2 separate regions of the Homo sapiens genome follow, and region 1 is linked to region 2. The links come from fine-mapping of genetic effects on gene expression. Tissue or cell type: monocytes after interferon gamma. Region 2 holds a variant in brackets; the other region holds the start of a gene. All regions are shown on one strand. Distances are from middle to middle.

Region 1 (10,727 bases), 21 kb after region 2:
CAGAAACCCCCCATACCCACCCCGCGAAGAGCAGCCCCTTTCGGCATCCCATTGCCTTGTCCTTAGCCCCCACCCCGCCCTGATCCCAGACACTGAGCCACCGAATACTCTGCCTAAACTCAATTCCCCTTGCACACTTACACCTCTCTCACCTCCACAAACTTCACCCGCTGCCCGGCCCCTTCCCCTCCTCTAGGCATGTCCTAAGTGCTCAGTAACTGCTGATGGAATAAATCCCACACCCGTGCCAGCTCCACACGGCCTCCCTGACCCCAGCTGCCCGTCACTTGTCCCCCAGATGGCCACGGAATTCTGGACTCCCCTTCCCCTCCTCTCTGCAGAACCTCCCACTCCACATATTCCAGCCCAACCCTCATGCTACATTCCCCGGAAACCAGCCCCCTCTCTCCCGTCCAAAGCCCCTTCATTCCATCCTGCTCTCCCAGATTTGGGGGCAGGGAGGCAGCCGCACTCTCCTCCCTACACCAGCCACCCACGGTCTCCTAGGGCTCCCGCATATTCAACTTCAATGCACCCCGTTATTCCAACTGCATTCTTCCCGCATATTTGCTCAAGGTTCTGCTCCACACATCCCACTTTCAGCCTGTATTCCATCACTCCCATATTTCACCTGGATTCTGTTCCCTCCCAAATTGCTTGTAACCCCACCCCCAACCCCCACTCCACCCGCACACATATTTTCCACCTCTCTTCCCTTTAGAGAGCCCTCTCTGAACAACCCCTCCTCTCCACTGACCCCACCACCACCGCCACTTCTAGGATTCCCCGGACCCTGAGCCCCCTCTCCCCTCCCGCCGCTGACCCTGTCCCTCTACCTGCATCCTCCATCCTTGCTTCGGAATGACCAGTGGCTCATCCTGGTGGCTGATTTCATTCCAGTCCTGAGCCTCTCCCAGTTCCTCTTCTCAGCCTCTGCCTCCTTCCTGACCTCACGCATCCCAGCGGTGCCTTCGAGGCCCCGCCCTCACCAACCCATGACGTCACCACCCCATCCCTGCGAGCACTGTGCGGCTGCCCTCCAGGCCCCATCCTGGCCCACACACCTGACCCACTTCTCGGGCCTCATGACATCATGGCGCTGGCACACTTACACCCAGTGTTTCAGCCCCCAGCTCTCTCCCTCTCATCATTCACTAGGATGACCCCTTTCCTTTCCAGCGTTACATCACCACCCCTGGCTCCACCTTCCAAATGGCTCTCCCCAGATAGCTCACAGATTTCACAGCTCTTACCCCGGGGCCGGAGCTGAAAACTCTCCACGCTGGGCTCACCAAAGACAAATCTACATCACTACCTCCCATACCAGACACGGGCAAATCACTGCCCTTGGCAGCCCACACCTGATGGCTGTTTCCCCACACTCTGCAGCTCCCCACCACCGCCAACACATATTCCAGCCCAGCCATACCCTAGATGGGCTCTCTCCTGCAGCAGCCCTCCGCCCCACATTCACACGCGTGGCCTGGCCTGGATGACCCCCTTCCCGACCCCATTCTGACCTCACCTCCCCACCACGTGGGTGAATTGAGGCTGGATAGAACCCCCCCTTCACTGCCCCAGAATACAGACCAAAGCCTTCCACATTGTCCCCATAGACTGTAGAGACAGAGAAGCCCTCTGGGGAACCAAGCAATGAAATCTCTACGGTGCACACTGCGGCACCCCAGTTCCCCCTGGGGCATCAACTCCCTCTCCCACTGTCTCTCAAAGGCAAACTTTTGCCTTAGATAAGGACCATGCACACTTATTAACCCAATGAATGACTCACCCTAAATTCTGCTCTCTGGTGGGTATTATAACCATCCCCATTATACAGAGGATGAAACTGAGGCTTGTCTAGGATCCCACCATGAAAGACAGAAACATTCGTCTTCCTTCCCCTTACCCAGCTGACCTTCCCTGACCACCTCCTGTTTCCTCCCAGAACTAACCCAAATGCGGCCTCACACCTTAAGCATGGCACATGCTGCAGGCTGGGTACTTCTGGGTTCAGATTCCAGCTGCCTTTCTCCTTGGTGTGTCCTTGGGCAAAGTACTTGCCCTCTCTGGGCCTTCCCCCATCAGTAAAGCGGGATAATAAGAGCTCCTACCTTATAGGGTTGTTGTTGAACTAAATTATTTAGTGTATATAAGGTGCTTCAAACAGTGGCTGGCACTCCCTGTTACCATCTGTGTGATCTGTTGATTATTTGACAGACCAGGAGCCCGTGAGGGCAGAGCCATTTTAATCAATCTTGTATCTTCAGGGACTGCTTGTGAATTTAACGGGAGATGCCAGGGAATGGGGTTCTAGACACTGGGGATACAGCCAAGGTTTTCTCCCCTCGGCTCATTCCCTGTCATCCTCCAGGTCTCAGCTCCAATCCCCTCTCCTGCAGGAAGCCCTCCCTGACTCCCAGGCTGGGTCAGGAGCTGTCTCAATCACCACAGTGGCCCCAGCAAACTCTGAACCAGCCTAACAGTGTTTCTCACAGTGATGGCCAAGGAACATAATCCTTACCACAAGTGCTTATGAAAATGCAGCTTCCTAGGTCGGGTCCCAACTATACACAAGCAGAAACTCTGGGGGTGGGCCCAGAAATCTGCATTTCCTCCAAGTTCCTTCAGACACTAAAGGTTCCTTCTGCCCTTGGGCGCCACAATCTGCCCAGTTTATTCCCCCACCTCCGACCCTACCACCCCACACATGACCCTCCTAGTTCAGCAACCCTGCCCCATACCACAGGGAGACCCCAAAGGGTGGTGAGGACAGTATAGGAGAAGCAACACTTTTTAAACACCATGTGCTCTTCTAGGTGCTGGGTTCCATATTCACATGGAGTCAAACACTCTAGTGGGGAGGTCCAAGAAGCCCAGTGGATATAAACCAACAGTAATTGATGTGAGGACCGGGCACAGTGACTCACGCCTGTAATCTCAGCACTTTGGGAGGCTGAGGTGGGCAGATCACTTGAGGTCAGGAGTTCGAAACCAGCCTGGCCAAGATGGTGAAACCCCATCTCTGCTAAAATTACAAAAATTAGCCAGGCGTGGTGGCATATGCCTGTAGTTCCAGCTACTTGGGAGGCTGAAACAGGAGAATCACTTGAACTTGGGAGGCGTAGGTTGTAGTGAGCTGAGATGAGGCCACTGCACTCCAGCCTGGGTGACAGAGAGAGACTCTATCTCAAAAAATAATAATAGGCCCAGCGCAGTGGCTCACGCCTGTAATCTCAGCACTTTGGGAGGCTGAGGTGGGTGGATCACCTGAGGTCAGGAGTTTGAGACCACCCTGGCCAACATGGCAAAACCCCGTCTCTACTAAAAATGTAAAAATTAGCTGGGCATGCTGGCATACACCTGTAATCCCAGCTAGTTGGGAGGCTGAGGCAGGAGAATCACTTGAACCCAGGAGGTGGAGGCTACCGTGAGCCGAGATCGCGCCACTGCACTCCAGCCTGGGTGACCCGCAAGAGTCCATCTCAAAAAAAATAATAATAATAATCTATATCAGGTAGTGGTGTTATGAAGAAAAATAAAGCCAAGTGAAGGGCCATACAGTGACAGGAGTTATTTTAGCTTGAGTAGTACTTTAGCAAATGCCTGGTTGTGAAGCTGACGTCTGAGCGGAGACCTGAAAGAGGTGTGGAAGAAGCCACACAGACACCTGAAAAGACCTGATCCAGAAGGACAGGACAGCGAGTACAAAGGCCCTGAGGTGGCAGTGCGTTCAGGGACAGCGAGTACAAAGGCCCTGAGATGGCAATGTGTTCGCTATGTTCAAATGACAGCGGGGAGGCCAGGGTGGCTGCAGCAGAGTGAGCCAGGGGAATGAGAGAAGTGATGGGAGTTGAGGGGAGGGAGGAGGAGGAACCCAATAGGTTGGGGCCTCGTGGATATGGTGAAGACTTTTGCAGTGTAATGTGGGAGCCAGGAGAGGGTTTGAAAGGAGAAACAACCTGACCTGACTTCTGTTCTACTAGTATCCCCCTAACAGTGAGAGGCAGAGAGCCCACCTGGAAGGCCACTGCAACAAACCAGGTAAGAGCAGGAGACAAACTGAGGCCAGAGTGGTAGCAAAGGAGCTGGTGAGGCATGGTTGGATTCTGGATGTGTTTTGAAGACAGAGCTAATGCGATCTGCTAGACCATATATAAGTAAGACAAAAGGGAGAAGTGAAGAAGACTCCAAGCTAGCCAGGCACGGTGGCTCACGCCTGTAATCCCAACACTTTGGGAGGCTGAGGCGGGTGGATCACCTGAGGTCACGAGTTCAAGACCAACCTGGCCAACATAGTGAAACCCCTTCTCTACTAAAAATACAAACAATTAGCTGGGTGTGGTGGCGGGCGCCTGTAATTCCCTTGAATCTGGGAAGTGGAGGTTTCAGTGAGCCAAGATCGCGCCATTGCACTCCAGCCTGGGCTACAAGAGCGAAACTCTGTCTCAAAAAAAAAAAAAAAAGAACACTCCAAGCTTCTTGATCTTAGTACCTGGCAGGATGAATGTCCCATCAACTGGGTTTGGAGGTTGAAAGGAAGAAATCGCAAGATTGGTTTGGGACAAGTTTATGTCTGAATGTCAGATGAACTTCCAAAGAGAGAAGAGTCGGCCATGATATGAGTCTGGAGTTCAGGGCAGAGATCCAGGCTGGAAATACACACGTGGGAGTTCTCATTAGATAAAGAGGGTGAAGCTAGCCAATGGTATAGACAGAGATGATGTCATTCTACTGATGATGAAGCTGAGGCACAGAAGGGTTAAACAACTGGCCCAAAGCCACAGTAATGATCAGTGGCAGAGCCAGGATTCAAATTCGGGATTCAACCCGACGCCAGAGCCCACATTCTTAACCATCAGTAGAGTAAGTTTAAGAGTTAATTCACCTAAAACACTTGGCAGGTGCACAGCACATAGCAAACGCCACAGGCATAATAGGGCTTCACATCTCTTTAAAGTACATGCTCATCCCTGGAGGTCTCCTTCCCTCCCTTCCTCAATATTGCTTCTTCCCACGACTTTCACCCAAATCAAAGCTTGTAAAGCATAGTGCGCTGTAATAACCCTCTGCCTTAAAACCTCCTACTAAATCGCCACGCTGCATTCCAAGGACGTCTCTATATTTTACCATCTGCTGTCTCCTGCTTTACAACTTTCCCCATTGAAGACCCTCCTGCGATATACAGATCACCCCCAACTCACATGCTGCGCTCAGCCTCACAACCCCTCAATCAAGCGCCTACCCTTGTTAAAGGGCACCCTCCCTCCCGATTCCTACAAGGCCAGGTCAGCTGCCCACCGCAGCCCACTCTCCCCCGAGAGAAGCCCCTTCCCCTCCACCTAAGACCTCCACCACGGCCCGCGCAACCGCCACTCCCGCGGCCTCTCACCTTCTCCACTAGCAACCCTCCTCGCGAGCGGTTCAACTGACGAAGCTCCAGCCCCGCCCCAGGATCCGGCGTTCTCGCTTCTGATTGGTCACAGCTTACCAGCAGCCAAGTTTCCATTAGCCAAAAGAGACGCCCATCACTCTGTCCCTCCCCCAGAGGAGAACCCGCCCTCCAAAACTTCCAATTGGCTAACTAAGAAGAGGCTGTCCCAAATGGGTTGGGGGAGGCACCTAACGTCGGGCTCTTCTCTAATCACTACTGGCTAATAATGCTGCCAGTCATACAAAAAGGTTGTTCCCCAGAGTGGAAGGGAAAGAATCCCGGAAGTAGCCCCTTGACTCCACCTATTACCCCCTGCGGGAGGGTAGGCCGCGCCCACGTGGTGGGGAGGGCCTGGAAGGGAGAGCCGGGTGTGCATGCGCATGGGGAGATAGTGGCCGCGGCTCCGGAAACTGGGGAGTGGTCTCAGCATAAAGACAGGTTGAGATTTGTCATCGCTTGGTGCATTCCAAACCTGCACTAAGCATTTTGCAGGACTTGGCTTATTTAAACTTTATAACAGCCCTGCAAAGTTATTATGATTTCCATTTTACCACTAAGAAAACAGTCTCAGAGAGGTATAGCCACTAGCCCGGGTTCACACGGCTTTTGAACGACCCATATTTTAAACCGATCAGTCATGAACTGGAAGGATCCAGCTAAAGGAATTGAGCGCGGGGATGGGGGAGGAGGGACCTCTTTAAGAAAGGAAAATAAAGTTTAAAGAAAAAAAAAAACTGACATGAAAGTTTACTTAGAATATGAAATAATAACAAATTACATATTTAAAAGAGCCAAATACCACAAACATTGCAAAATCCCAAAGGATAACGTAATGTTTTTATTAATTTTCTGCCTGACACACCTCTGTGATGTTTCCTACTTTTTCAGCTGCATGTTTCACAATATCCTTGTCTACAAAGAGAAAAGTAAGTTATCTTTCCTCTAGCGTGGTTGATGGAACTTTTTAAAAATTCATTATAATTTAGAACAAGTTTCAGCTTCACAAATCAGTATTGGTGATGTTATTGAAGTCTTTTGGAAATCTAGAAAAACTTCTGGCCAGGCGCGGTGGCTCACACCTGTAATCCCAGCACTTTGGGAATCACGAGGTCAGGAGTTCGAGACCAGCCTGAACCACCTGGTGAAACCCTGTCTCTACTAAAAATATAAAAAATTAGCTGGGCGCAGTAGCGGACGCCTGTAATCCCAGCTACTCAGGAGGCTGAGGCAGGAGAATCACTTGAACTCGGGAGGCGGAGGTTGCAGTGAGCCAAGATCGTGCCACTGCACGCCAGCCTGGGCAACAGAGTGAGATGCCACCTCCAAAAAAAAAAAAAGAAAAACTTTCATAAAGTTTCATTCACATGTTAACTATGTTTTGGAAAATGTTTCCACAGACTAACTTCTGGCTCAATACTTTCAATTTTTTGTTTGTTGGTTTCTTTGTTTGCTGAGACAGGGTCTCGCTTCATCGCTGGGCTGGAGTGCAGTGGCATGTTCATGGCTCACTGCAGCCTTGAACTCCTGAGCTGAAGTGATCCTCCTGCCTTACCCTCCCAGGTAGCTGGTACTACAGGCACACGCCATCACATCTGGCTAATTTTTTTTTAATTTATTTTTAGTACACATGGGGTTTCACTATGTTGCCCAGGCTGGTCTCGAACTCCTGAGTTCAAGCAGTCCTCCCACCTCAGCCTCCCAAAATGCTGGGATTACAGGTGTGAGCCACCGCGCAGGCTTCCTTTCAATTCCTGACATTTCTGTTACACAGATGCTTCTGGAATGAGCCGCTAAAAGATACATTCATGCCATTTAGTAGGCTGTGGCCTCGCATCTAGTGAGTTAGTAACTTACACAACAGAAGCATTCCGGGAAGCCATTTCTACGCCATGACAACTAATTAGGTGGTTTAAGTATCCGAGAAGTATCTATGAACCACATAAAAATATCCCTGTAAACCCAATCTAAATGTATTCTCACTTCACCTTCCCCTCAGCTAAATCCCATAAATGCCTGCACTCCAGCTTGAGTGACAGAGCAAGACTCTGTCTCTAAGAAAATAATTAATAAATAAATAACAATTAAAAAAAAAGGAAACATGGATTAGAATCTGAAGGCTTTCCCTTGCCAGCTGTGAGACCTCCCACAAGTCATGCCTCTTCTGGGAACTTCACTTTCTTCATCTGTAAGTGGAGTTCAATTCATTGCTTCACTTATTTCTTCACTCACTTGTCAGGCCATTTATTGAGCACCTGCTATGTTCCAGGCACTTTTCTGGGTGCTGGAGGTAGAAACATCTGGTAACAAACAGGAAAAGCTCATACCCTAGTGAAAGGAAGGCAAATAATAACATATAGTAAAGAAATAGGCCAGGCGCGGTGGCTCACGCCTGTAATCCCAGCACTTTGGGAGGCCAAGGCAGGCGGATCACCTGAGGTCAGGAGTTCAAGACCAGCCTGGCCAACATGGCAAAATTCTGTCTCTACTAAAACTACAAAACTTAGTTGGGCATGGCGGTGCATGCCCGTAATCCCAGCTGCTTGGGAGGCTGAGGCAGGAGAATCGCTTGAACCCGGAAGGCAGAGGTTGCAGTGAGCTGAGATCAGGCCACTACACTCCAGACTGGGCCACAGAGCGAGACTCCATCTCAAAAAAAAGAAAAAAAAAAAAAAGAAAGAAAGAAATGTCCAGGTCCGGGGTGATAAGTGCTACAGAGAAAATAAAGCAGAGTGAAGTGGATGGAACTGGGGGTTAGAGGGGTGGGAAGATGTCTCAGAAAAGCTGATTTAGAGCAGAGACCTGAAGCAAGTGACTGAGCCAGGAATTTATTTATTCATTTATTTATTTTGGAGAGAGAGCCTCACTCTGTCGCCCAGGCTGGAGTGCAGTGGCGCCTGACTCACTGCACCCTCCACCTCCCAAAGTCAAGCAATTCTCCTGCCTCAGCCTCCTGAGTAGCTGGGATTACAGGTGCCTGCCACCAGGCCTGGCTAATTTTTTTGTATTTTTAGTAGAGATGGGGTTTCACCGTGTTGGCCAGGCTGGTCTTGAACTCCTGACCTCAAGTGATCCACCTATCTCAGCCTCCCAAAGTGCTGGAATTACAGGTGTGAGCCACCACACCCAGCCTATTTATTTTTTTTATTTTTATTTTTATTTATTTATTTATTTATTTTTGAGATGGAGTCTCGCTCTGTGGCCCAGACTGGAGGTGCAATGGCGTGATCTCAGCTTACTGCAACCTCCACCTCCTGGGTTCAAGCAATTCTCCTGCCTCAGCCTCCCAAGTAGCTGGGATTACAGGCACATGCCACCATGCCTGGCTAATTTTTGTATTTTCAGTAGAGATGGGGTTTCACCATGTTGGCCAGGCTGCTCTCGAACTCCTGAGCTCATGTGATCCACCCGCCTCGGGCTCCCAAAGTGATGGGATTACAGGCGTGAGCCACCGCTCCTGGCCAAGCCAGCCTTGAGGGTACCAAGGTGGACCATTGCAAGAAGATGAGACAGTGAGTACAAAGGCCCTGTAGTGGGAACATGCCTGGTGTTTCTAAGAAACAGCAAAGACATCAATATTGAGTGTGTGGAGTGTGACAGAAGATGATGTCTGGGAGGATGCCTGAGACCAGGTTATATAAGGCCTTGTCGGCCCTTGTGAGGCCTTTTGTTTTACTCTGAGTGAGGTGGGAGCCATCGAAGGTATTAGGCAGAGAGGACATAATTTTACTCATGTCTTTTTTTGTTTTTTTTTTGAATCAGGGTCTCACTTTGTCACCCAGGCTGGAGTGCAGTGGCTCCATCTCGGCTTACTGAAACCTCAGCCTCCCTGTTTCAAGCAATCCTCCTGCCTCAACCCCGCGAGTAGCAGGATTACAGGCATGCACCACCACACCTGGCTAACTTTTGTATTGTTAGTAGAGACGAGGTTTCGCCATGTTACCCAGGCTGGTCTGGAACGCCTGAGTTCAAGCAATCCACCCGCCTCAGCCTCCCAAAGTACTAGGATTACAGGGGTGAGCCCCACCGCCTGGCCTACTCATTCATGTCTTCAATGATCATTATGGTGGCTGCATTAAGAATAGGCTGTTAGCTACTCGGGAGGTTGAGGCAGGTGGATTGTTTGAGGACAGGAGTTCGACACTGCACTCCAGCCTGTGAGAACCGATCTCTAAAAATAAAAATTTAAATTAAAAAACTTAGGCTGTTAAAATAATGTGGACATGGAAAACAGCCAGTTTCTCAGAAAGTTAAACAGAATTAACACATGACCCAGCAATTACACTCCTAGGTGTATACCTGGGAATTAAAAACTGGTATTCAAATACTTGTACATGGATGTTCATAACAGCATTATTCACAATAGCTAAAAGGTGGAAACAACCCAAATGTCCATAAATCTATGAGCAGATAAGGCCAGGTGCAGTGGCATGCCTGTAATCTCAGCACTTTGGGAGGCCGGGGCAGGCGGATCACCTGAGGTCAGACGTTCGAGACCAGCGTGGCCAACATGGCAAAACCATATTAGTCTCTACTAAAAATACAAAATTAGCCAGGCATGGAGGCGCATGCCTGTAATCCCAGCTACTCAGGAGGCTGAGGCAGGAGAATTGCTTGAACCCGGGAGGCGGAGGTTGCGGCAAGCCAATATCGCGCTACTGCACTCGAGCCTGGGCAACAGAGCAAGACTCCATCTCAAAAACAAAAGAAAAAGAGAAAAGAAATGAAGTGCTGATAGATGCTACAACATGGATAATAAACCTTGAAAACATGATGCTAAGTGAAAGAAGACAAACACAAAAGGTCACATAGTGTATGATTCCATTTATATGAAGTGTCCAGAAGAGGCAAGTCCACAGAGACAGAAAATAGTGTTGTGGTGCCAGAGGCTGGGGGAAGGAGCGAATGGGTAATCACTGTTTAATGGGTGTGAGGTCTCCTTTGGGGGGTGATGAAATGTTTTGGAACTAGATGGAGGTGATGATTGCACAACATTATGAACGTACTAAATGCCACTGAATTGCTCACTTTAAAATGGTTAATTTTCTGTTAATGTGAATTTCACCTCAATAAAAAAAGAATTTAAGCAACAGATTAAAAAATCATTAGAATGAGAGGTGATGGTGGCTTCCACGAGGGTGGTGATGGCGGAGGTGGTGAGAAGTGGTTAGAATCTATTCTGAAGGTAGAGCTGACAGAATCTGCTGATGGATTGAGTGTCGGGAGGAAGAGAAAGAGAGGAGTCAAAAATGATTCTAAGGGTCCTGGAGTGCAGTGGCGCGACCTCGGCTCACTGCAA
Region 2 (10,727 bases):
CTGGCACACGGGGGCCCGCAAAGCCACGGGCTATTACCATTAGGCACCTACTATGTGCCAGGCAGTGTGCCAGATGTGGCATGGAGAACGGTGCCACTCTAGCCTCCTGGGGTTGAAAGACCAGCAGGGAGAAACAAGCCAAGGCCACAGGTGAATTCAGACGGTGATAGAGGCGATGGATAAAAGGAAAGAGGTGAGGGAGGGTGACCTCAGGCTGGGACCAGACCCACACAGGCTCCTTGGAAGGGTGGGGCAAGGGAAAGCCTCCCTGAGAGTGGCTGCCTTGGCTCTGGGATGGGGGAGCAGACAGAGGCCTGCAGGTGGCAGGGGGTGCTGGGGGCAAAGCCAACGGGGTTGAGTGGGCGGGTCCTGTGGGAAGGACAGGGTGGCTGAACACAGCCGGGCGAGCGGAATGAAATGAGGAAAGGGCAGGACCAGGCAGGGCTTTGTGGACCACAGTGAGGACTGTAGCTTTTACTCCGAGATGGGAGCCATGGGAGGCTTCCCCCCGCAGAGCAGGGACCAGGGCTAGTGTAGGTACAAGAGACTCCCTCTGGCTGCTGTGGGGAGAACAGACTGTAAGGGGTGCCGGCTGAAGCAGGCTGAAGCAGGTCCGGGGCCACGCCTACCAGCTACCTCCTCCTTAGAATGGGCTGCAGTCCAGCCTGACGGTTTCCACAGGGAGGGAACTTTCAATCCTGCAGGCTCTCAGACCCAGGTAAGCATCAGAATCTCCTGCAGAGCTTATTGGAGGAACATGCAGGTCCCCAGAGACCACTTCAATAGACCCCACCCAGGGGACACATGTTCTCAGGACCTCCTAAGGCTGTGTCTCACACACACACACACACAAAACCCACCCAGAGAAGTCTAGAAGTGTCCAAAGGTATTCCCAGCCCTTCCAGTTCAAGATTTTATCAAAGACTCCAACTTCAACATTTTGTTTCCAAGACTCAGGCGCTCTGATCCTAAGTGTTCCCATGAGGTCACGAAGGCCCGAGCCTCGGGTCCACATCACCACATACAGAAGCAGCCGCTGTCTGGCCCTCAGCTTTTAGGATTCCGAATCTGGTTCTAACGTTCTGAATCCCCTTTCCATGTCACGTCACCTTCTCTCTCTGAGCCTCGTTTCTTCACCTGTAAATGGGGCTTCTGACTGTACCCGCTTGGCGATGGTGGCTGAGGTTTCAATGAGATGCATTCATGCAACAAATGACCAGGGAGAACCAACCACCCCCGACCCCAGCACCATCATGCCAGGCTCCGGGAATATGGCAGGGCCATAACCAGCCAGTCCCAGCAGCCAGCATCACCAGCAGGGCCATAACCAGCCAGTCCCAGCAGCCAGCATCACTGGGGCCAGATTCTGGGAGCTGGCTTCCTAAGCAGCAGATTCGGGACTCAAGATTCGGAAGTTCCGACATTCTGTGCGTCATTAATGACACTGTGAGCGCGGGGGCTGAGTTGGCACATACTGCAGCTCCAAGGCACTGATCTTCTAGTTCATTCCCATTTGCCAAGTCAGACACGCTCAATCAGATGTGCTGAATGAATCAGCCTTAAGGATCTGCTGCCAGGCTTGGGAACCTCAAAGAGGCAGGTGCTGGGGCTCCAGGGTCGGTATCTGGTTACGACCCCAACTTTGAGTCTGTGATCCTGTCCCCCAGTGGACCCCGAGGGCAGGAAGCAAGCTGGGGCAAAGGCAGAGTTCTGAGAGGCAGGGGGCTCTGAGTAGCTTGTACAAATTATGTCGCTTTCTGAGTCTCTGCTCTCTCTGCTTAAGATGAGGATGATAAGAGTCCCTGCCTTGGCTGGGCACGGTGACTCATGCTTGTAATCCCAGCACTTTGGGAGGCCAAAGGCGGGCAGATCACCTGAGGTCGGGAGTTCGAGACCAGCCTGGCCAACATGGTGAAACCCCATCTCTACTAATAATACAAAAATTAGCCGGGTGTGGTGGCTCATGCTTGTAATCCCAGGTACTCAGGAGGCTGAGGCACGAGAATCACTTGAACCCAGGAGGCAGAGGTTGCGGTGAGCTGAGATCACGCCACTGCACTCCAGCCTGAGCAACAAGAGTGAAACCCCGTCTTAAAAAAAAAAAAAAAAAAAAGTCTCTGCCTCAGAGGGCTGTCCTGCAAGGATTCAGTAAAACAGGACTTCCACAAATCCTCTAGGGAGGCAGGAGAGAGCAACGCACAAGATCACATGGGTGGGGACCATGGAGGCCTGGTTAAAAACCCCAGCTGTGCCCCAGACAGGCTGTGTGACCCCGGGGCAGGTGATTCTACCGCTCTGATTCTGTCTATATAAAACGGGGGTGATAGTGACTCACAGGGTTGCTGTGAGGATGGAAAAAGGTGTATGCAGAGCTGTGCTTGGCACATGGCAGGGGCCCAATAAATGACCACAGTCATTGTTACTATCGTGGGAAATTAACGGGTGAGAAGGATGCTGGGGAAGTTGTGTGCACCACGGCAGTAACGGAGGCAGGGTGAGTGGAGGAAGGAGGAGGAGTCCTCCTCGGGAAACCCTCCCTCACTCATCAAGCCCCCCCACCTCCCCATGCAGCTTCCTGATTGGAGAAGACGGGCTCGTATACGAGGGCCGTGGCTGGAACTTCACGGGTGCCCACTCAGGTCACTTATGGAACCCCATGTCCATTGGCATCAGCTTCATGGGCAACTACATGGGTGAGTGACTGTCCAGCCAGTTGGGATGGGGGCTGACACGGGGCCCTACGCTATCACTTCCCCTTCGGGGAAGCCCCTGCCTGACTCCTACCTCTGCCTCCTCCAGATCGGGTGCCCACACCCCAGGCCATCCGGGCAGCCCAGGGTCTACTGGCCTGCGGTGTGGCTCAGGGAGCCCTGAGGTCCAACTATGTGCTCAAAGGACACCGGGATGTGCAGCGTACACTCTCTCCAGGCAACCAGCTCTACCACCTCATCCAGAATTGGCCACACTACCGCTCCCCCTGAGGCCCTGCTGATCCGCACCCCATTCCTCCCCTCCCATGGCCAAAAACCCCACTGTCTCCTTCTCCAATAAAGATGTAGCTCAAAATGTGTTCCTCAGCAGGTCCCACCACACACCTCCCCTCCTTCTCTCCCTCCCACAAGACCAAAGCCCTCCCACCCCTTCCCCTCCCAGCACTCTCCTCACTGGTGCTTGGAACCCAGAGGCCCCGGCCCTGAACCAAGACCCCGGAGATCCCAGCTCGAGAGCAACATCACAGCTCAGAACCCAGAGGTCTCAGGTCAGAGCCCAGGAATCAGCACCAAGGCGGCCGGGATGTCACCAACAGTGGGTCCTGGGGGTCCTCCTGGGCAGTGAACCACGCTGCAAGACACCTCCTTCCCACCACACAGCCAAAGGCATCCTGCGCAGAAACTTTGCTTGGACTCCTTTAGGGACGGGCTGCTCACTACTCCTCCCAGGTCTGCCCTTGCACTGTTTAGAGAGTGTACAAGCTTTTCCTAGGCCTGAGTCCCAATCTGCCTCCGAGGCACAGACACACAGGTCCCAATTATACCCCCCAATTTCTCTTCCTCCACATTTCTCCCCACTCCACCCTCACCCTTTAGTCATAAGCTGAGGGGTCCCCAGGGCAAATATGTTTATTTACAAAATGCACACATCCTCCCTCCCAGCATGCACTGCCTGGGGAGAGGGCAGGGTCAGGGCCTCACACACCTGAGACCCCAGGGGCAGCAGGAGGGACGGGGCCAGGGCAGGGACTGGGCAGGGCTGGAGGCCACCCTGGCCCCACCCCCCACACCATACCCAGCAAGTGGGTGGGGGATGGAGGGGTAGTACCCCTTCTCCACGTTATGACCGCATGTCCAGTCGGTTCATGTACTCCTGCAAGGCCTTCAGGCGTGCGTCTATTTCGGCCATGTCAGCCGCCTGGTGCTCCGAGCTGTACTCTGTGAGAGCAGGTGTGGGTATGGGGGCTGTGAGGGGCCTGAAGCCCCAGGGAGTTCCTGGGCCCAATATACCACTGCCCGCACTACCATTCCAACGGGTCCTGGGGCTGGGAGAGGGGATGTGGAGTCCCAGGCTCACCTTTGATGGGGACCCAGCCCCCGGAGTTGGCCAGAGATTTCTGATGGTGGCTGCGTTCCACGGGGGGAGACTTCTGGTGATGGGGAAGGTAGGAAAGGGGGTCACCCACCGTCCCTCTATTTCTGTCCCCCTAAATCCCACTGGAAATCCTGAGCCTAAGGACCTTGGGGAAAAATAAGGCCTGACACCTACTGGCCATTCATTATCTGCAAAATAACCTCCTAATGTCCTCACAGAGCCCTCACCTCACATGTGAGGTGATGCCATTACCAACCCTGGTTAACTGATAAACAAAAACTAAGGTACAGAGAGGCTAAAGAACTGCCTTGAACCATACAGCTGGGAAGAGGAGGAGACAGGTTTCAAGACCTGACAGTCAGAAGCCAAAGCCCTAAAGAGCATCACGTGCCCCTCATTATTCCTTCTCCAATCTAATGCTCTCAAAACGTGCTGTTCCCAGGCCAGGTGCGCTGGCCCAGCCTGTAACTCCAGCGCTGTAGGAGGCTGAGGATGGCTTGAGGCCAGGAGTTCCAGACCAGCCTGGGCAACATAAAGAGACAATACCACCCCCTTATCCTGTCTCAACCCCACCCTGCCCCCCCAAAAAAGCCTAGTCCCAGCTACTCCATAGGCCGAGGTGGGAGGGTCTCTTGAGTCCAGGAGTTGAAAGCTGCCGTGAGCTACAATTGCCCCACTGCACCCCAGCCTGAAAGAGCGAGACGCACTCTTAAAAAAGCCCTATTGCCAAAGGCATTCAGAGTCGCCTCTGCACCTGATCCCCAGGAAGGAATCACAGGAAATGGGGGCAGCTGTGTTCCAGTGGTTTATGTTGCCCCTTCTACTCACCATATTGGACCCACTCCAGGGCGTTGGGCTGGGAGGCTTCCCACGGCGGCGGTGACCCCTGAGAAAAAGGAGTAACCAAGGACCAGTGGTGGGGAGGCTCTGGTACTTCCCACCTCCCCGACCTTTGTGGTTTCAAGGCCCCCAGGCTCCATCACCCAATTTCCCTGCAAAAGACTGTTTCTAGTCTCCCCAGAAACCCTTTGGAGGCGATCCTTTTCCCAAGTTCAAGTTTTACCCTCTGGAGAGCGACTCAGAGAAATCCTCCAAATCGCTGCAGGAGCTGGCAGACGAGCAGCGGCTGCGGAAACTGTCCACTAGAGGGAGACGGAGGGCGTGACCGCTGGCCCTCGCTGGCCCCGCCCAGTGCTTCCCAGGCCCTCCCAGCCCGCCCGCCCTGCCCAGTGCCTCCCAGCCCGCCCAGCCCCGCCCAGTCCCGCCTAGCCCGGCAGCCCCCAGCTCCAGGCCAGTTACCTGAGGAGCTGCGGTTTCGGGAGCGGTTAGGGGCGTCCCCTCGGCCAGTCAAGGCAGCAGGGGGC[T/C]GGGTCTGGCGAGACCAGGAGACGGACGGACCGTCCCCGCTTCCCCCACTGCCTAAGCGGTTCCGCTGCTGCTGCCTGGGAAAAAAGAAAGGAGACGCCGGTCTGTACGCCCAACTCCTGCAGGCAAGGGGGTCACTGCGCCCCTAAAGGTCACAGCCACGCCAGCGAAAGCCTGAGGTGACAGGCCTACGAGCGGAAAGCACGCAGAAACACAGACGAGGAGGTAGGACGGACGGAAGGGAGAGCAGGCGGGGTATCCGGCGAGAAGCGAGCAGGTGGCAGGGGATGGAGACTGATGGTGGCGTGGAGAGATGAGAGCCCGGGAGCGGGCACGGGCCAGGGACAGGGGCAGGTGAGGGAGGAAGGGGCACTGACTTCATCTGGATCTCTCTCTGCTTCCTTTCCTTGGCTTTCACAAAGGCCGTGGGGTCGAAGCGGAGCGCGCGACCACCTAGGACGGCGTGGGAGAGGAGGCGGCTAGGTCCGGAGACGGGCCTTGGCAGCGCCAGTGCGTCCCCTCCCTACCGCAGGGCAGGGGCACAGACCTGTGGGCGAGGGCGAGGGGCGCGCAGGGCGGCCCCGACCCCGGCTCCCGCGGCCGCTCTCCCGGGATGAGGAGCGCGCGGCGCCGCGGCCTCGCGACGCGGAGCGCTCCCGGGACGATGAGGCCCGGTCCTCCCGCGTCGGGGGCGGCTGCACCGGCGGAGTCCGCCTCCTGAGACCACAGAGGCAGCTGTCAGCTTCCCGCCCGCCCCGACAAACTCAATCGCGAGACTCCTCCCCGACCGCACCTTCTCCGAACCCTCAGGCCTACCCCATCAACTCCTAGACGTGCACTCCTGGGCCCATGACCCTCTCGATATCTTCCCCCCCAGACCTCACCCAATTGGACCCCTAAAACACCCCTCTGTCATTCCCCTACATCCTTTCAACACACCGCCTTCAACAGACCCTTCTTTCCGGAGTCTTCCACAACTCCCCGGAAACTCTTTCCAATTTTCCACCACCCACCCCATAAATGCCAGCGGACCTCACCCTGATCCCACCTGCTGCGCCGCACCCTTTCGCACCAGGAGACCCTAGGGCACGATCCCTTTCCCAGTCCCTCCTGAACGCCGCCCCAAGCCTGCGCATCTCCGCACAGCCCGGGTCCACCTCCTAACCACTGCACCCAAATCCTGTCTGGACTCCAGACGGGGTCCGCTAAGCCCCGCCTCCCCTTCAGCCCCGCCCCCTCCACCCTACCTGGCCCCGCCCCGCCCCCTTAGGCTCCGCCTCATCAGCCTCCACACCCTCAGGGCCCGCCCATCCGCCCAGGCGCCTGGCAGGCCTCGCTCTCACCCCCTCTTGTACAATGCCAGCTCGCTGGTCAGCGTCTTCAGCCGGGCGCGCAGGCTCCGCTCCGATGCCTTCGCCTCCTCGAGCTGCCGGGAGGGGAGAGGGGCGCGGAGGTCCAGGCTGAGGCCGAGGTCCGCGCCTCGCTGGCCGCCCCGGGCCCCCGCTGCTCACCTCCTTGGCCAGACGGCGGCAGTCCTGGCCGCGACGGCCGGCCACCCTGTGCCCGAGGCCGCGCTCCTGCCGCAGCTCCAGCTCCAGCCCGCGCACCAGCCCGCGCAGCGCCTCGGCCTCCTGGCGTGCCGCGCGCCCGGCCAGCGCCTCCTCGCGCGATCGGCCCAGCTGCGCCTCCAGCTCCCGCTTCTCGGACGCCAGGCGCGACACCCTGGGGAAGACGCGGAGAGAGCGCTGGAGAGAGAGGCATGGCCCCATTCCCACTACTCCATGGGGGTGGGACGCCTCATCATTTCACCTCCCCGGAAGGGGGTACACGGCTCATCAGTCTCAACTGACCCCATGGGGAGGGGCAGGGTCCTATCATATCCCCTGCGACGTGTGAGGAGGGATGTGGTCACATCACCCCCATGCACCTCACGAAGAGGACATGACCCCACCACGCACAGGACACACACACACACTCCTCCCCCTGGTGCGGGTGAAGGAGTGGGAACACAGCCATGTGAGTTCCAATTCTAAACGATTTCATCAATCTGTACACACCCTGAAAGCCTAGCACTGCCTCCCTCCTCCTCCCACCTCGCCAGGCCAGTCTCCCAGTCACGAAATCCTCTACAATACAAATTTGATCAGGTAACTACCATGCTCAAAACCCTTCCTTGAGAAAATGTATACACAAGGCTATTCATTGCAGCACAATCTGTAATAGCAAAAGAGTGGAAATAACCAAAATGTATGTTAAAAGAGAACTAATTGAATTTCTAATACATCTACTCAATTGAGTCCCACAAAACTATAAAGAGGAAAGTAGAGTATCTCTGTGTCCTGTCACCGAGTGACTGCTGTGACACAGTGCGGTGCAGACAGTATGTTCAGAATGTCCCTTTTCATAAAAGAAATGAGAATTATAAATTATATGTTTATATTTTCAAAATTACAGAATAAACCAAAATCTATGGGGGAAAAAAGGATTATTTATGGGGAAGGGGAAAATGAACAGAAATTGGACTTCTCTGGCTGGACAAAGTGGCTCATGCCTGTAATCTCAGCACTTTGGGAGGCCGAGGCAGGTGGATCACATCTCAAAAAAATAAGAAAACCAGAAGTAAAAATAATTTTTTAAAAAATGTAAGAAATTGGACCTCTCTGAATGTACCCTCTTTTTCAGTTTTGGAACTATAAAAATATTTTATACAAATTAATTAATTAAATTTTAACAAATGCCATCACAAAAATTTTAAAAGAAACTGGCCCAAACAGACCTAACTCTATATCAAAGTTGGTGGCACATTGGAGAATTATAGGAGGTGACTAAAACACATCGTTTGAGCAAGCGGGATATAGCCTAAGGCCAAAAAGAACTGCAAAGAAATCTTTTTTTTTTTTTTTCTGAGACGGAGTCTTGCTCTGTCACCCAGGCTGGAGTGCAGTGGCACGATCTTGGCTCACTGCAACCTCTGCCTCCCGGGTTGAAGCGATTCTCCTGCCTCAGCCCCCAAGTAGCTAGGATTACAGGCGCCCACCACCAACCCTGGCTAATTTTTGTATGTTTAGTAGAGACGGGGTTTCACCATGTTGGCCAAGATGGTCTCAAACTCCTGACCTCATGATCTGCCCGCCTCAGCCTCCCAATGTGCTGGGATTACAGGCGTGAGCCACCGCACCCGGCCCTGGAAATGTTAAACTTCATTCAAAATTCAATTATTAGTAATTACACTGGTATTGTTTAAGATAAAGCAAATAAATATGTTATTATCCCTAGAAACTAAGATTTTCATCACAAGAAAAGACATATAAGTAGGTCAAGTGTGGTGGCTCACACTTGTAATCCCAGCACTTTGGGAGGCCAAGGCGGACAGATACCTTGAGCCCAAGAGTTTGAGACATGCCTGGGCAACAAGGTAAATCCCCATCTCTACAAAAATTAGCTTGCAGCCAGGTACAGTGGCTCATGCCTGTCATCCCAGCACTTTGGGAGGCCAAGGCAGGCAGATCACCTGAGGTCATGAGTTCAAGACCAGCCTGGCCAATATGGTGAAACCCCCTCTCTACTAAAAATTCAAAAAAAAAATTAGCCAGGTCTGGTGGGGGGCACCTGTAATCCCAGCTACTCAGGAGGCTGAGGCAGGAGAATCGCTTGAGCCCAGGAGGCAGAAGGCAGAGATTGCAGTGAGCTGACATTGCACCACTGCACTCCAGCTTGGGGGACAGAACAAGACTTTGTCTCAAAAAAAAAAAATAGCTTGGCATGGTGCCATGTGCCTGTAGTCCCAGCTACTGGGAAGGCTGAGGCAGGAAGGTTGTCTGAACCCAGGAGTCTGAGTTGACAGTGAGCCATGACTGCACTACTGCACTCTAGCCTGGGTGACAGGGCAAGACTCTGTCTCTTAAAAAAAAAAAAAAAATTAAATTAAGTGCAAAAAGAGATACAACTAAACTATATTGTTTAGGGATGCATAGTTCAGCTGGCAAAACCATAAGCAAATCAAGTGAGTGAGATCTGGTGCATTTGGGAGCATGGTTGGGGCAGGAGGGTCTCTCCCGGAAAAAGACATACGGAGGCTATGGGGAAATGACTACTTTTGATTTTTTTCTCCTTTTTTTTTTTTCCACATAGAGTCTCCCTCTGTCACCCAGGCTGGAGTGCAGTGGCGTGATCTCGGCTCACTGCAACCTCTGCCTCCTGGGTTCAAGTGATTCTCCTGTCTCAGCCTCCCGAGTAGCTGGGGCTACAGGCATGCGCCACCCTGCCCAGCTAAATTTTTGTATTTTTAGTAGAGACAGGGTTTCATCATGTTGGCCAGGCTGGTCTTGAACTCCTGACCTCAGGTGTTCCACCCGCCTCGGCCTCCCAAAGTGCTGGGATTATAGGCGTGAGCCACTGAGCCCAGCCTCAATTTTTTAACCTGGGTAGTTGTTACATGTACGCTGGCTTTATGATAATTTGTGAAACCGTACATTTATATTTTATACTCTTTGGAGTATATTATTTTTCACAACAAGAAAGTTAAGTAGTGGAAGCAGTGGGACTCTTGGGCAGGAGGGACGGGTCCCATCCCAGAGATTCAGGTGTAAGTGGTGTGTCTGGAGGAGTCAGGGCCTGCCCTGGAACTCCTCACTGCTCACAAAATTTTTAAAAAAAGAAAAATAGGCCAGGCACGGTGGCTTACACCTGTAATTCCAACACTCTGGGAGTCTGAGACAGGTGGATCACTTGAGACAGGTCGAGAGTTCGAGATCAGCCTGGCCAACACGGTGAAACCCCGTCTCTACTAAAAATGCAAAAATCAGCCGGGTGTGGTGGCACACACCTGTAATCCCAGCTGCTCAGGAGGCTGAGGCAGGAGAATCGCTTGAACCCAGGAGGCAGAGGTTGCAGTGAGCAGAGATCACGCCATTGCACTCCAGCCTGGGTGACAGTGCGAGACTCGGTCTCAAAAAAAGAAAAAGAAATGGTGAATGTACAGGGCAGCCAGGGCACTGAGATTTTTCAAAGCTCCCGGGCAATTTGAGTGCATATCCAGAGTGAACCACTGCATTGGTTGAAAGGCCGAAGAGAACTTTATAAAAGAGGGAGCCAGCTCTCAACAGCTGAAATCATCAGTCTCAACACCACCAAAGGAGGCATCTTGCCAAAACCTACCCCACATGTGATTAAACCTATATAGGGTTAGCCACCACTTCACTGCAAGTACAGGGGACAGAGAAGGACATTAAACACACCATGGCGATATAATCAGCAAAATCTATTTTTCATTTTTCCAT

Alleles and levels. Positions count from the first base shown, and alleles are read on the strand shown. Sizes are in standard deviations (SD) of each study's normalised expression.
For the expression in monocytes after interferon gamma of the gene that starts at base 5,427 in region 1, C is the high allele of the variant in region 2 and T is the other (small effect, 0.36 SD a copy in Fairfax 2014).

The links. PIP is the estimated chance that this variant, and not a neighbour inherited with it, causes the effect.
Region 1: CCDC61 starts here. The variant in region 2 is fine-mapped to the expression of CCDC61 in monocytes after interferon gamma (Fairfax 2014, PIP 0.93).

What each region holds. Positions count from the first base shown.
Region 1 is chr19:45,990,167-46,000,893 of GRCh38, reverse strand. It overlaps CCDC61 (coiled-coil domain containing 61), which reads right to left and starts at 5,427. Exons shown (of 14, transcript NM_001267723.2): 1 at 5,390-5,427. RefSeq lists enhancers at 5,310-5,489, 5,880-6,069.
Region 2 is chr19:46,011,492-46,022,218 of GRCh38, reverse strand. CCDC61 (coiled-coil domain containing 61) reads right to left here. Exons shown (of 14, transcript NM_001267723.2): 6 at 6,960-7,170; 7 at 6,792-6,874; 8 at 5,996-6,165; 9 at 5,826-5,901; 10 at 5,386-5,525; 11 at 5,150-5,228; 12 at 4,915-4,972; 13 at 4,069-4,141; 14 at 3,603-3,929. The coding sequence ends at 3,832. PGLYRP1 (peptidoglycan recognition protein 1) reads left to right here. Exons shown (of 3, transcript NM_005091.3): 2 at 2,572-2,693; 3 at 2,800-3,066. The coding sequence ends at 2,981. It overlaps MIR769 (microRNA 769), which reads right to left and starts at 3,287; the gene lies at 3,170-3,287. RefSeq lists an enhancer at 1-558 and silencers at 5,297-5,356, 6,087-6,166, 6,634-6,928. The variant T/C (reference allele first, on the strand shown) is at 5,451.